Linked DNA regions of Homo sapiens. The main gene of each other region encodes a partner of the protein of the gene in region 2 in a complex. Each region holds a gene or a part of one and is shown on either strand. Other genes may lie near its edges. A codon is read from its position in the direction of its gene.

Region 1 (7,030 bases), on a different chromosome or scaffold from region 2:
TAATGTGTTATTATCAGTGCTTAAACCTATAGATGCTTTTGGATTCAGTAATTTAAATGACCCTCCCATTATTTCTGTCAAATAGTATAATTACTTCATATCACTTATAACTATATGACAAATTACTATGCGGTAACGTGATAGCTTTTTTTAAGCAAACAAATCTAAAGTTACATATTTAATGATGATACCTTCAAATCTGTCACCTTGGGAGGCTACCTACTTATTCTAATGTTGCCTGTCTTTTCAAATATTTTTGAAAGACTTTTGGAATTGCTTTCAGATCCTGTGGCATAATGCTTTCTGGCATACCATTATTCTTTGATGGTACAGTTGATTTGTAAATGATCAGAAATCTTTCTGGAACCAAATTCAATTACTAACATAGGTTTACCAAACTACTGCTTTGTATCCGGAAGGATATGGATCTACATTGTTAGCCTTCTTGTTTGGCCCTGATAACAATTCCAGGCTGGGTGTGGTGGTTCACGCCTGTAATCCCAGCACTTTGGGAGGCTGAGGTGGGCGGATCACTTGAGGTCAGGAGTCCCAGACTAGCCTGGCCAACATGGCGAAACCCCGTCTCTACTAAAAATACAAAAATTAGCTGGGCGTGGTGGCAGACACCTGTAATCCCAGCTGCTCAGAAGCTGAGGCAGGAGAATCGCTTGAACCGGGGAGGCCGAGGTTGCAGTGCACCAAGATTGTGCCATTGCACTCCAGCCTGGGCGACAAGAGCAAAACTCCGTATTTAAAAAAAAAAAAAAAAAAAAAATCTAAAGAAGAGTTCTAAAAATATTTCTAACCAACGACTTGGAATATATATAAAGTTCTGAGTTCTAGCCTGCTTATTGGGAGGAAAAAAACTAAGTTTCATTACTTTATATTCATGCTTCTTTAGTCAAATAGCCACTATCCATTTTATAATAGAACCTTTCAGTATTTAACACAGATACACCATTTAATAATTAAGACTTCTCTATATCCCTTGGCTTTAAATATAGGAAATTTTTATATTTAAAATCAAAATATATACTCCTTCACATAGTACACAGTGATATATTTTATTTGGGAGGCTATTTCATATCTAACTAACCTAACCAACAAATATTAACCATTAGTTGATGTTTAAAGCAAAGTGGAATGCTATTTAATTTTTTTAGATAGGCCTAAAACAATTTTACCTTTTTTATGAAGATGACAAATTATCCAGAACTGTCTCATATTGGCTTCTTTAACAAAATACAAATCAATCACTGTGTCTTCGGTTTAGTCAAACTGCCTTCTACCCAAAATCTGTAAGAGGCTTCAATCCCCACTAACTAGGGAAAACTCAATCTAGAAAGCACAGATCAGGCAACTTGAAGCTGTCTAAACTTTCTATCATCTATGTCTCAAATCTACTGATAAGAGAGATCCTGCCACAGAAGAAGCTGGGATTGTAAATGCTTCAGGTAAGTGAATGGGGGACTCAGCTTACAGTGACAGTCAAATATAGGCAGAAAGAGGGTAAAGGGAGAACTGCTCAATAAGAGGGTGGGAAGGTAGAGAAAAAAATTCAGTGATCACTGGTATAGACTATAAATATTTTTGTTACAAGGCTTTCTTTTGGCCTCTCTTCTAACCCATAACTGAGTGAAATAAAGCATATACACAATATACACCACATATGCTAAACAGGTTTAAAAGATATTAAAGGTTGAAAACTTCATTTAAAAACAATTACTTTTAAAGATAAAAACCAATATTATAAAGGGGTCATACTGCTGCTATTAAATCTTATGTACAATAATATTTATTGAGCACTGTGTACCAGATACTGTGTTTAGTATATTATTTCATTCAATCCTCACAGCATTCCCCAAAATGAAGTATTGATATATTCTGTTACAGATAAGGAAATTGAGGCTTAGATGCCAAAAGTTCTGCTACAATCAGATTTTAAACCTAAAGCCTATGAATTAATGGGACTGAGTATTCATTTTACATTTATCTACAGAAATATTAGACTAACTTGTAGTATTCCGAGGCAGTTTCAAATTCACCAAGAAATATATATGCATTTCCAAGGTTGCTATATGCTCTTCTTTCAGCTGCTTTATCTCCAAATTCTTTTGCAATAAGGAGACGCTGAAACAAACAATTTTAATTAGATGTAGATAAAATAAAACTGAAGAATGATCTAATCACTGTTCAGAACTTTGATGGAGGAAATGATCTGGCTCCAAGGCTTTCCACTGTACCTGCTCATGAGCTATAACTGCATCCCTGAAGTTGCCAAGGAGGTAATGTGTGTTTCCAAGATTTCCAAAGGCACGTCCTTGTGCCGCTCGGTCACCCAAAGCAGTCACTAATGATAGGTTTTCCCTAAGGGATCGCAAAAAGTGATGAAAAAATAAGTTTGCAGAACAATTTTATGTATGTGATTTACATATCTAATTCTTTTTATCAGAAAAAAATGTAGGGAAGCTTACAGCCATAATGTGCAACATTTTAAGGATGACATCTATGATGAAGAGCAATTATAGGAAATAGCTGGGAACACTTTATTAAACTATTCAGATAGGTTTCTGCCCAGGGTCAAGCACAGAGTTAATCTTGGAACCCCTATAGTTAAGTAGTTCTATGAAATTCTATTGGTAAAAGACTAAATTACTCTAAATAACAGACCAACCATTGACATTTCTTGCTTTTGCCACTAAGTGGCACTGGTCTGCAACTTAAATGAAAGCTGCAGATTACTACTAATATAACACTGTAACATTTAAGCAACTGAATTGATGATTTTGCTAGTTCATAACTTTAAAATCTTTGCCAAACTTAAAAACTTACTACTGAATAAAGAACGTACAGCAGATCCACGGCTTAGATGGGCCTACATGACTGCCCATATCAGCCCCTACTCACTCATAAAAATCCACGGCTGCCTGCAGAGCATCTCTCACTTCTTCTGGAAATTCTCCTACATCCTGGGGACCAGGGCAACCAAAACTTTTCCCTTTGGCATGATACACATTCCCAAGATTGTAAAGTGCTCTTGCTTCTCCCACCTAAATGAAGACATCAGCAAAGTTTACATTTTGAAAACAGAGGTCAGGTTTATCATATATATTTGTAATATCCTTAGTATTACGGACAAGGGAAAAAAATTTTTATATTGGCTCTCCATACAGAACCAATCAAATAATTACTTATGAAAGACCTCTTACTATTTCCTTCTTTTTCTCCATTAAATTTTTTTTCTTTTACTTCTATTAGTCTATAAATGTTTTCTTTTTTGGTATTAATTTTAAAATAAACTATAGAATAATTAAATAGTATTAAAATGCAAAGCCCTTTGAATGAAAATATTAGGCCTACCATCTAATGCTGCGGTATTACCTTGTCATTAAGCTCTCTGGAAATATCTAGGTGTCGCTGACAACAAACTATGGCTTCGTCAAAATTCCCAAGAACTTTTAAGGTGTTTCCCAGATTACCACTAGCTTTCGCTTCCCCCAGCTGGTCTCCAATAGTCCTGAAAAAAACAAAAAACAAAAAACAAAAAACCAAATGGTATTAAAATACAAATGGTGTTAAAATATAAAGTAGCCAGAGTACAGTTTTCCAAGAGGACAAACTGACATGCTTAAGGTAAGAAAAACCCATTGGCTTTGAAACCTACTTTAAATAAATATTTAAAACTTACATTTCTGGATTTGAATGTAATTAGTTTTCATCCATTTAATTAAACTCTAGGGTCAATTCACTACTATTCATTCAATTAAACTGTGTTCAGCCTAAAGGTTAGTTTTGAAAAGCGATGTTACTGAAGTAGAACTCATTAAATGTATTAAGTTAGTTTTTGTTAATTGAATAGAAATATTTTTTAAAGTAATAGCTAATTTCAGAAGGAAGAATATTTAAAAGCTTAAATTAATTACCTTGCAAGGGTTAAATCATGATGGTGATATTCTAATGCTTTGGCATAATCATGCAAATAGAAATAAGCATTGCCCAACTGGCTGTAAATAGCGCTAAGTGTTTTTAGGTCTTCAGTTCCAACTTGAACTGCAGCTTCAAAGAATGACACGCCAGCGCGGCAGTCTCCTGATTTACATAGACGTTCCCCTTCCAAGGCCAGCTCTAGGCAAGAAGCTTCCATTCTACAAAATTATACAGGACAGACATTTAAACATAACATTACAGCTGCATCACAGTATTTTTAACTTCCCGTAATATAATTTAAGCGGCTACTCTTGTTCAGGGCAGCTGCCTCTATAACTGAAGTTTATATACATTCCTGATAAAACAGTAAGCAGTTATTTGTAGCAAGAGGTAATTTGCCTATTCGAATTTCTCTGAGCCTGCTCAGAGAGGTCAGGATAGCTAAATATCTTTATGTGGAGCTCATTTTAATTGGCCCAGAGCAATCCACGTTACTAGTGAAAGAGCCTAAAGCAGTATTTCCCAAACAATTCTGAGTTGTAACAGACCTCTGGACTTCCTTAGAGTCTGAGAAGATGAGTATGTAGGAAAGTGAGGCCCTACAATTATTAATATTGTTCTCTACCCAGGTATCCAAGTAATCTAGTCACCTGTTCATCAGCCCCTCTGACCATCCAGCCATCCATCCCTCGCTCTCTCTCTCATACACACACAACACACACTCACTCTCCTTCCTCTTCTTACCACCACATGTCCACTTATACCCTAGAAAAATAGAGGAACAAAATATTCTTGATCTGTAAGACACATTTTCACAAGAGAACTAGGTGTCAAGAAACTAAGTTAGAAAACAATGATTCAAAAATTTGCAGAAATACTAATTTTGAAAGTCTGTCCCTGAATTGAAAAAGAAGGATTAAGTCACTGTAAACATATCTGGGAGAAAAAAACACTGATACTTTGGATTCAAATCCTAAATTTTAGAGGGTGCCCTTCACCAAAGTTGCCATTGTGTTTCTTCAGCATCTTCATGATTTCTGCCATATGTAGGAACTACCTATTCGTTTAATTATTTCTGTAATTTGGCAAATTTCCTTTAAATTGGCACACTATCTTTAACTTATCATTTTAAAAAAATGGAGCTTCATCCAAAGCAGTACTCATGAAACTGTGAATTTGATACGATACTTATATGTATATTCTAATACAACGGTCTCCAATCTTTTTGGCACCAGGGGCCGGTTTTGTGGAAGACAATTTTTCCATGGACGGGTGGCAGGGGATTGTTTTGGGATGATTCAAGTGCATTACATTTATTGTGTACTTTATTCCTCTTGTTACTATACATTCACCATAATGTACAATCAGTGGGAGCCCTGAGCTTGTTTTCCTGCAACTAGATGGTCTCCTCTGGGTGTGACTGGAGACAGTGACAGATCATCAGGCATTAAACTCTCATAAGGAATGTGCAATCTGGATCCCTCGAATGTGCAGTTCACAATAGGGTTTGCACTCCTATGAGAATCTAATGGTACTGCTGATCTGACAGGAGGCGGAGCTCAGGTGAAAATGCTCACTCGTCCTGCCCACCTGCAGCTTACCTCCTAACAGGCTACAACAGTACTGGTCTGTGGCCCAGGGGTTGGGAACCCCGTTCTAATACACATTAAACAAATATGAAATTATTAAAATCTAAAAGTGAGTAAAGTTACCTTATGTACCACCAGTGGCATACATATCACTCTTTGAGAAGCTCTGATTAAGCTCATCAAATGTTTTAATTTTTGGAACAGCATTAAGTTACTCCTTACTAGAATGAGCTTTGAGCCACTCCAATAGAGCAGTTGTTCTTAATGCTGGCTGTACAACAGCAGAGCTCACCTGGAGCACTTTCTAAAACTCCCAACGCTGAACTCCACCCTCTGGGTGATGTCTGGCCACCTGTATTTTTTTAAAGCCCCAGGTAATTCTAAAGTACAAGTTAGGGTTGAGAATCAGTGCTTTTATAAGAAATGTGAATTAAACCACCACCCACCCTAATATCATTCAAATATGATTATACTCTGTATATCTAGTGGTAGATCAATTAACATGTTTTTGTGAGTGCTGTTTTTCAGTCTGCAAAATTTCAAGGGTCCTTAGAGCCATAAATTAAAATGGGATTGTAAAGTAGAAAATGTACCTGATGAAGCTAAAAGCCTGGACAAAGATAAACTGAGCCAATTGTAAAGGTTCAAAGCAGACTTCTGGTTTAGAACAAGCAGATATATGTAGCCAATTCCAATAGGTAATTTTCAAGTTTTCTATCTAGGTATCTTTTTTTTTTTTAAGAATTCAAATGACTTAGCCAATGGCTACTGCTTGCTCATCTTCACTTTTTTTTTGAGACACAGTCTCTCACTGTCACTCAGGCTGGAGTGCAGCAGTACAATCTTGGCTAACTGCAACCTCTGCCTCCTGGGTTCAAGTGATTCTCGTGCCTCAGTCTCCTGAGCAGCTGGGATTACAGTCATGTGCCATCATGCCTGGCTAATTTTTGTAATTTTAGTAGAGACAGGGTTTTGCCATGTTGGCCAGGCTGGTCTCAATCTCCTGACCTCAAGCAATCCACCCATCTTGGCCTCCCAAAGTGCTGGGATTACAGGTGTGAGCCACCATGGCTGGCCCCATCTTCACTTTATGGATCTATGCAAAATAATGCAGGTAAACCTCCAACATTTTGCTACAATATTAGACTACAAGCCAATTAGATACAGGAGAGAAGATCTAAAATACATAGTAAGATAAGCAGTTAAATCAGAAACCTTAAACAGCTATATTTATGTTTCTTTATATGTCACTTCACAATTAATAAAGCCTATTTTTGCCTTCCAAAAATGAAAACTGCCCTTTAGAATTGTATTTCTGAAAATGAGATATTTCATAAAAGAAAAAATTGAGTATATCTGTTTAAGATTTTATGAAGTTATTGTCATATTCTATGTATAAAGATAAATAAATCAACAAAAGATATATAAAAATGTAATTTTTTTTTTCTTGAGATGGAGTCTCACTCTGTCACCCAGGCTGGAGCGCAATGGCTCACTGCAACCTCCGCCTCCTG
Region 2 (5,209 bases):
CTTTCAGCTCTGGCCGCATTCTGCAGACTTCCTATCTTCGTGCTGTATGTTTTTTTTTTCCCCCTTCACTCTAATGGACTGTTCCAGGGAAGGGATGGGGGCAGCAGCTGCTTCGGATCCACACTGTATCTGTGTCATCCCCACATGGGTCCTCATAAAGGATTATTCAATGGAGGCATCCTGACATCTGTTCATTTAGGCTTCAGTTCCACTCCCAGGAACTTTGCCTGTCCCACGAGGGAGTATGGGAGAGAGGGACTGCCACACAGAAGCTGAAGACAACACCTGCTTCAGGGGAACACAGGCGCTTGAAAAAGAAAAGAGAGAACAGCCCATAATGCTCCCCGGGAGCAGAGGCCACTAATGGAGAGTGGGAAGAGCCTGGAAAGATGTGGCCTCAGGAAAAGGGATGAGAGAAAGGAGGTGGTATGGAAGACTCAGCAGGAACAAGGTAGGCTTCAAAGAGCCTATATTCCTCTTTTTCCCACACCGATCAAGTCAACTCAGTACTCACGGGAGAAAAATAGACTTTATTTACAAGTAATAACATTTAGAAAAGATCCATCCCCGGCCCTTAAAAACCTTCCCATCACTCCAAATCCCACCCCAGTGCAAGTCTGGGGAAGGTAGGGTGTGAGCTGCTGCTGAAGGCTGTCCCCCAACCCCACTCCTGAGACATAGGGCCCATCCGTCCTGGGAAAGAGCATCCTCTGGCAGGTGCTCCCACCAGGTCAGACCCAGTCCTGGACTTCAAGAGTGAGGGCCCCTGCTGGGCCCAGCCACCAGGACAGCAGGAACCAGGGCCTACTCCTCTTATGGTCCCTTCTAGATCCAGAGGCTAAGAGGAAGACTGGCCAGGCCCAAGGACCCAGCCATCAAAACCAGCCTCAAATCTGGTTGTGATGGAGAAGTGACTTTGCTTTAAGAAAAAAGGAGGCAAGGTAGGGAGAGCGCCCACACTGTCCATGCTCCAGGCCCCCTGGGCCAGCTCCGAGAAGGCGCCAGTGAAGGACCAGGGACCAGGCCAGGGTGCGGGCAGGCATCACTGTCTCTAGGGGTTTGGCTACTGTTGGCCTGGGAGCTGAGAGAAGGCACTGAGAGGGACAGTAGGCGGAGGACCAGGTGAGGTCAGCATCGGGGACACAGGTGGGGCCACTCACTGGTACTGGCCCTTTAGTGCTTTGCCTGAAAGAGACACAGTCACATGGCCAGATGAGAACTTGCGATACTAGCCTGCACCCACTGGCTGGGAAGATCTCTTCCTGCTCCCACGCCCCTGTCTGGATCCCCTCCCTTGTGAGCCCCAGGGTTATCAGTTGCTGGCTGTGCCTGAGCAGCTCTGGGTGCTCTCCATGAGAATGGGGCCATCTGTCTTCTCTCCTTGGAGAGGAGCTACCAGGACAGGGACACCTCTTACCCCACACCCTCCAGCAGCCTGGCGTGGCCCCATCTTGGATGCTACTTGGTGGGGCGGTCTGGGGGGTGCCCATGCTCTCATCGGGTTTCCCTCCCCCATCCTGCCAGTGCCTCTACCTTGCCCTTGGCTCGAGGGGTGGCACCAATGGCGGCAGCAGTGGCGGCGCTGGCTGTGGTGGTGGCAATGCGCGGAGAACGGCGGGTTCCACTGCGAGTGTTGGGGGAAGCCTTGGACAGGGCCTTCTTTGAGGCTCCCCGCCGCAGAAGGCTGTTCCCTAGCTTCTTGGGTGTGTTGAGGATGCTGAAGGCCATCGACTGGCGCCGGTCAGCCTGCAAGGAAGGGCTGTCAGACCGGGAGACCCAATGCTGCCTTCCCAGGCCAGCGTGCTGTGCCACGCTCTATCAGCAAGGTCCCGCCAGGGCGTCGCTTCATCCCCCTTCAGCCCCAGCCTCACCTGTTTAGTAGAAGCTGGAGCTGCTTTCTTCTGGGCCTCAGTAGTGCTCTGTTTGCGCCCTTCATGTCGGTCTCGGGGAGTCATGGGGCGTGGGAAACAGCTGGTGGCCTTCTTAGACTATGGAGAAGAGGACAGTTAGGCAGACAGTAGCAAGAGGAGTCACATCTGAAGCCAGGTGTCTTGTCCTCTCAGAGCTGAGTGGACCTTGTAAGTCAACGTGCAACCTGCTCCCCTTCCCAACTCTGGGCCAGATCCTTCCCTTCCCAACAGTTCCCATCCATGGGTCAGGCCCTTGGAGAGAGGGAAAGAGAGGGGGAAGTGAGGGAAGGAGAGAGAAGGCTCCCTTTAGTCCTTGGTGAGCTGGGCCTGACCTGAGCACAGTGCTGGAGTAACACCCAGGAGCCACCGCGCCTACCTCAGGAGTTCCAGGGCCCTGGTGGGGCTCTAGGGAGACCCGTTTGCGCTGCTGCCGGGTGGTGATGCCAGTGCCCTCGGCTATCTGGATTGGCTGCATGCTGGCTCGGCGCAGGGTCTCTTGGGGGTCTCCAGTTTTCATCTCCTCATCTGTGATGGTGCCCAGGCTCAGGGAAGGCTGCATGGGTGGAAGAGGTGGTCAGTGGACCATAGCTGTATGGAGATGGAGGAGGACCTGGGGCTGTCCCAGAACTCTACACTCGCCCGACACTTATGGTCGGGACCCTTCCTGCCTCACGAGGTAGAAAGACACAAGGCCTCCTTTCCTGTTCTGCTTTCTACCTAAGCCCTGGGCAAATGGCCACAAGCAGTGCAGTCCTGACCAGATTCCTCTCTGAGCTCCTGCCTACCCCAAGGGACTTCACCCCTGAGTGCCCTCCCAGCTGTCTGTTCCACCTGGAAACATGAGAAGGTCACCCTCCCCCTCCTCGGCCAGTCAGTGATCCAGGGCCCTAGTGCTCAGGCTAGATCAGCAGGTGGGATTCCAAGGGAGGGCAGGGATGGGAGGCCCTGCACAGTGACCCCAGGCCTCACCCTGGACTCCAGGGGATAGCAGGTCTTCAGATGTGGGGGGCACACTCGATTGCGCTGCTGCAGCTCTGCAATGCGGTTCCAGTCATCCAGCTGCTCAGGCTCATCCTGGCAAGTGCCCATGTAGAAGCTGTTCCTTCCTGTGGAAGGCAGGGAAGTGGGAACAAATGAGCCTGGAGTCGGCAGGTCACCTCCTGGCCCTGGCATCTTGCCAGCCTTTGCTGCCACCTACCCCATAAACTTGAAGCCCAGCACACCAGTCTGATTCAGTGCCGCAGGTGCAGGAGTACGGCACACAGACTATTTCTATCCTAGGGGCTTGCTCACCACCTTCTCCCTGGAGAGGGCAGAAGAGGTCACACGCAGAGACTGCTACTACATCTTACTCACCTGCCAAGGCTTGGTGGCCAACACCCAGAGGAACAAATTAAGGACCGGGAATTAATTCCCAGGGGCTCCCTGGTGCCCAAAGGACAAGAGCTTCCAAGAAGAGTCTGGCCAGCCTGGCCTTTCCAGCAGCCCATCACCGCCTGAGAAGGGCATGGAGGACTCCCCACAGCTAAGTGTCACAATTGTGCTGGGAATCCCGGGCCCTTAACTCTGGCTAAGAGTGCCCCCAACACAGCCAGCCCCTAGATGGGCAGGTAAGGAAGGCCCTGAGGCTGCAGGAAGGAGGGGCAGGTGGAGCTGGATGGTAGCAAGGAGGCCAGCCTTGGATTTTTAAAAAGCTTTCCTCTTTTCCCTGTGCCACGATCCACCTTCCAGTCTAATTTTGGGGTATAGTAAGTCCCTGTAGTCCCCTCACCTGGAGGGGCCCCACTGGACACCCCGGCCTGGGAACGACGAGCAGAACTGCGAGTGGTGGGGCGGTAGCCAGGCAAGCTGAGCAGGGCTGAGTTGCCATAATCGGGAGAACCCAGGCGAGCTAGAGACTGAGTAGAGGAGGTGGCTCGCAGGCTAGCCTGGGAAGCAGGAGCAGACCGCGTGCTGTAGAACGATGAGTTGGCGCTGTCTGGCTCTTCCACATCTAGCTTCTGGAAGACAGAGTGAATCTGTTGCAGTGTACAGTCCCTGGCACTGTACAGAAGCTTCCCATTCCCTTCCGAAGCCCTCAGATCCCACGGCACATCCATGTATTCCCAACTGCTTTGCAAAGGTCCTTAAAGTGTGTGTCTGCAAGAAATGGGCCTTGTCGACAGAAGCCCTCACAAGGTGGTGCTGATGTTGTCAAGACTCTTCTACGCATTTTTTTCATGGAGTCTATTCATAATGCTTTGAGGTAGGGAATGCAGAGTGTTTATCGGCCCATTTTGGAGATGAAGTGCAAAGAAATAAAGTGACTAGCCCCAAATCACACTGCTAGGAAGTATCAGAGCTGGGGCTAGGCCCCATGTCTCCTGACTAGTCAGGCTCATCCCACAGCCTCTGCTGTCCCTCAGTCCAAACTTCCAGGGCCCTTACCATGTTCCAGAACTTCCCCAACTTCTTGGTAGCAGGGGGCACCCTAAACACACAGGTCCCCCCTGCTGTACCAGGGGCCCCTCTCCCCTCCTCCCAAACCTCCCCTTCAAGATGTGGAAACAAAGGCAAGGGCCTGTAGCCTGTCAGGCAGTCCACTGGGCAGCAACAATGCCTCTCAGCTGCATGGGGCATGCTGGGAGGCACAGGATGGGCTGCAGCTTCGCCACGTTCTCTCCCTTCACCCTGCACAGGCTCAGTGCTACGCATGGAGAGAATGCTAGCCTTAGTCAGGAGGCAGGGATCTAATCCTAGCCCTGCCTTTTTCTTCAGAAGTGCCCTTAACCAAGTCACTGCCCTTTTTAAGACCTCTCAGCTTTCCCACTGTAACATGGACTGGCTGCTCATCCCTCCCTGCTCCTGACTGAGTGCCCAGTGCAAAGATGCCCTTGAGAGGAAGTGGGAATTGCTGCCCTGCAGCCCCTGTCCCAGCAGCCTGACCTTGGTCATGGTGATGTTGATGATCTGCGTGGTGCGCCGACGAGCGGAGCGGGTCTTACGACCCGAGTCCAGGAAGACGTCTCCCAGGGAGTCCAGGCTGCTCTCCAGGGGGGCCTGACTCCGAGCAGGGATGGGAGTGAAGTAGAGACTCTCCAGGGATTCTACCTTGGGGGGCAGGCGCTGGGAGATAGGTGAGGCTGGTTCTCCAGGGACGCTGGTGCCGTCTGGCTGGGTACGAGGCAGCTTGCTATGGAAAGGAAACCTGCTGAGGTACAGTCCTTCACGCTAGAAGGCATTTTGTCCAGCCCTTTTTGAAAGTGACCATTTCCCATCCTTACTACAAGCAGATGAGGTCAAGCAGCCCATCTCTCTGA

What was found. Proteins that work in one complex are often made in the same cells at the same time.
Region 1: the proteins of NUMA1 (region 2) and GPSM2 are in contact, whole or in part, in a crystal structure (PDB 6HC2), measured with the Homo sapiens proteins. Residues at the interface, in NP_006176.2 of Homo sapiens: Ser1901 (codon at 3,008), Phe1902 (codon at 3,005), Tyr1903 (codon at 3,002), Met1904 (codon at 2,999), Gly1905 (codon at 2,996), Thr1906 (codon at 2,993), Cys1907 (codon at 2,990), Gln1908 (codon at 2,987), Asp1909 (codon at 2,984), Glu1910 (codon at 2,981), Pro1911 (codon at 2,978), Glu1912 (codon at 2,975), Leu1914 (codon at 2,969), Asp1916 (codon at 2,963), Trp1917 (codon at 2,960), Asn1918 (codon at 2,957), Arg1919 (codon at 2,954), Ile1920 (codon at 2,951), Ala1921 (codon at 2,948), Leu1923 (codon at 2,942); in NP_001307967.1 of Homo sapiens: Ala28, Leu29, Glu32, Cys35, Lys36, Phe47, Lys59, Thr60, Ser62, Ala63, Ile64, Ser66, Gln67, Asn70, Ala71, Phe73, Asn110, Lys113, Tyr146, His153, Lys157, Pro164, Gln165, Arg203, Gly206, Asn207, Asn210, Tyr213, Leu214, Arg228.

The regions. Positions count from the first base shown.
Region 1 is NC_000001.11:108,893,979-108,901,008, reverse strand, and holds part of GPSM2 (G-protein-signaling modulator 2), read right to left. Parts: intron 4,146-7,030; coding exon 3,924-4,145; intron 3,518-3,923; coding exon 3,382-3,517; intron 3,051-3,381; coding exon 2,908-3,050; intron 2,368-2,907; coding exon 2,244-2,367; intron 2,131-2,243; coding exon 2,015-2,130; intron 1-2,014. UniProt on the Homo sapiens protein: Plays an important role in mitotic spindle pole organization via its interaction with NUMA1. Required for cortical dynein-dynactin complex recruitment during metaphase. Plays a role in metaphase spindle orientation.
Region 2 is NC_000011.10:72,002,354-72,007,562, forward strand, and holds the end of NUMA1 (nuclear mitotic apparatus protein 1), read right to left. Parts: exon of another isoform or gene 5,083-5,209; coding exon 4,836-5,082; exon of another isoform or gene 3,911-4,835; coding exon 3,682-3,910; exon of another isoform or gene 3,192-3,681; intron 3,017-3,191; coding exon 2,880-3,016; intron 2,464-2,879; coding exon 2,287-2,463; intron 1,989-2,286; coding exon 1,872-1,988; intron 1,747-1,871; coding exon 1,534-1,746; intron 1,186-1,533; coding exon 1,174-1,185; 3' UTR 511-1,173; downstream 1-510. UniProt on the Homo sapiens protein: Microtubule (MT)-binding protein that plays a role in the formation and maintenance of the spindle poles and the alignement and the segregation of chromosomes during mitotic cell division.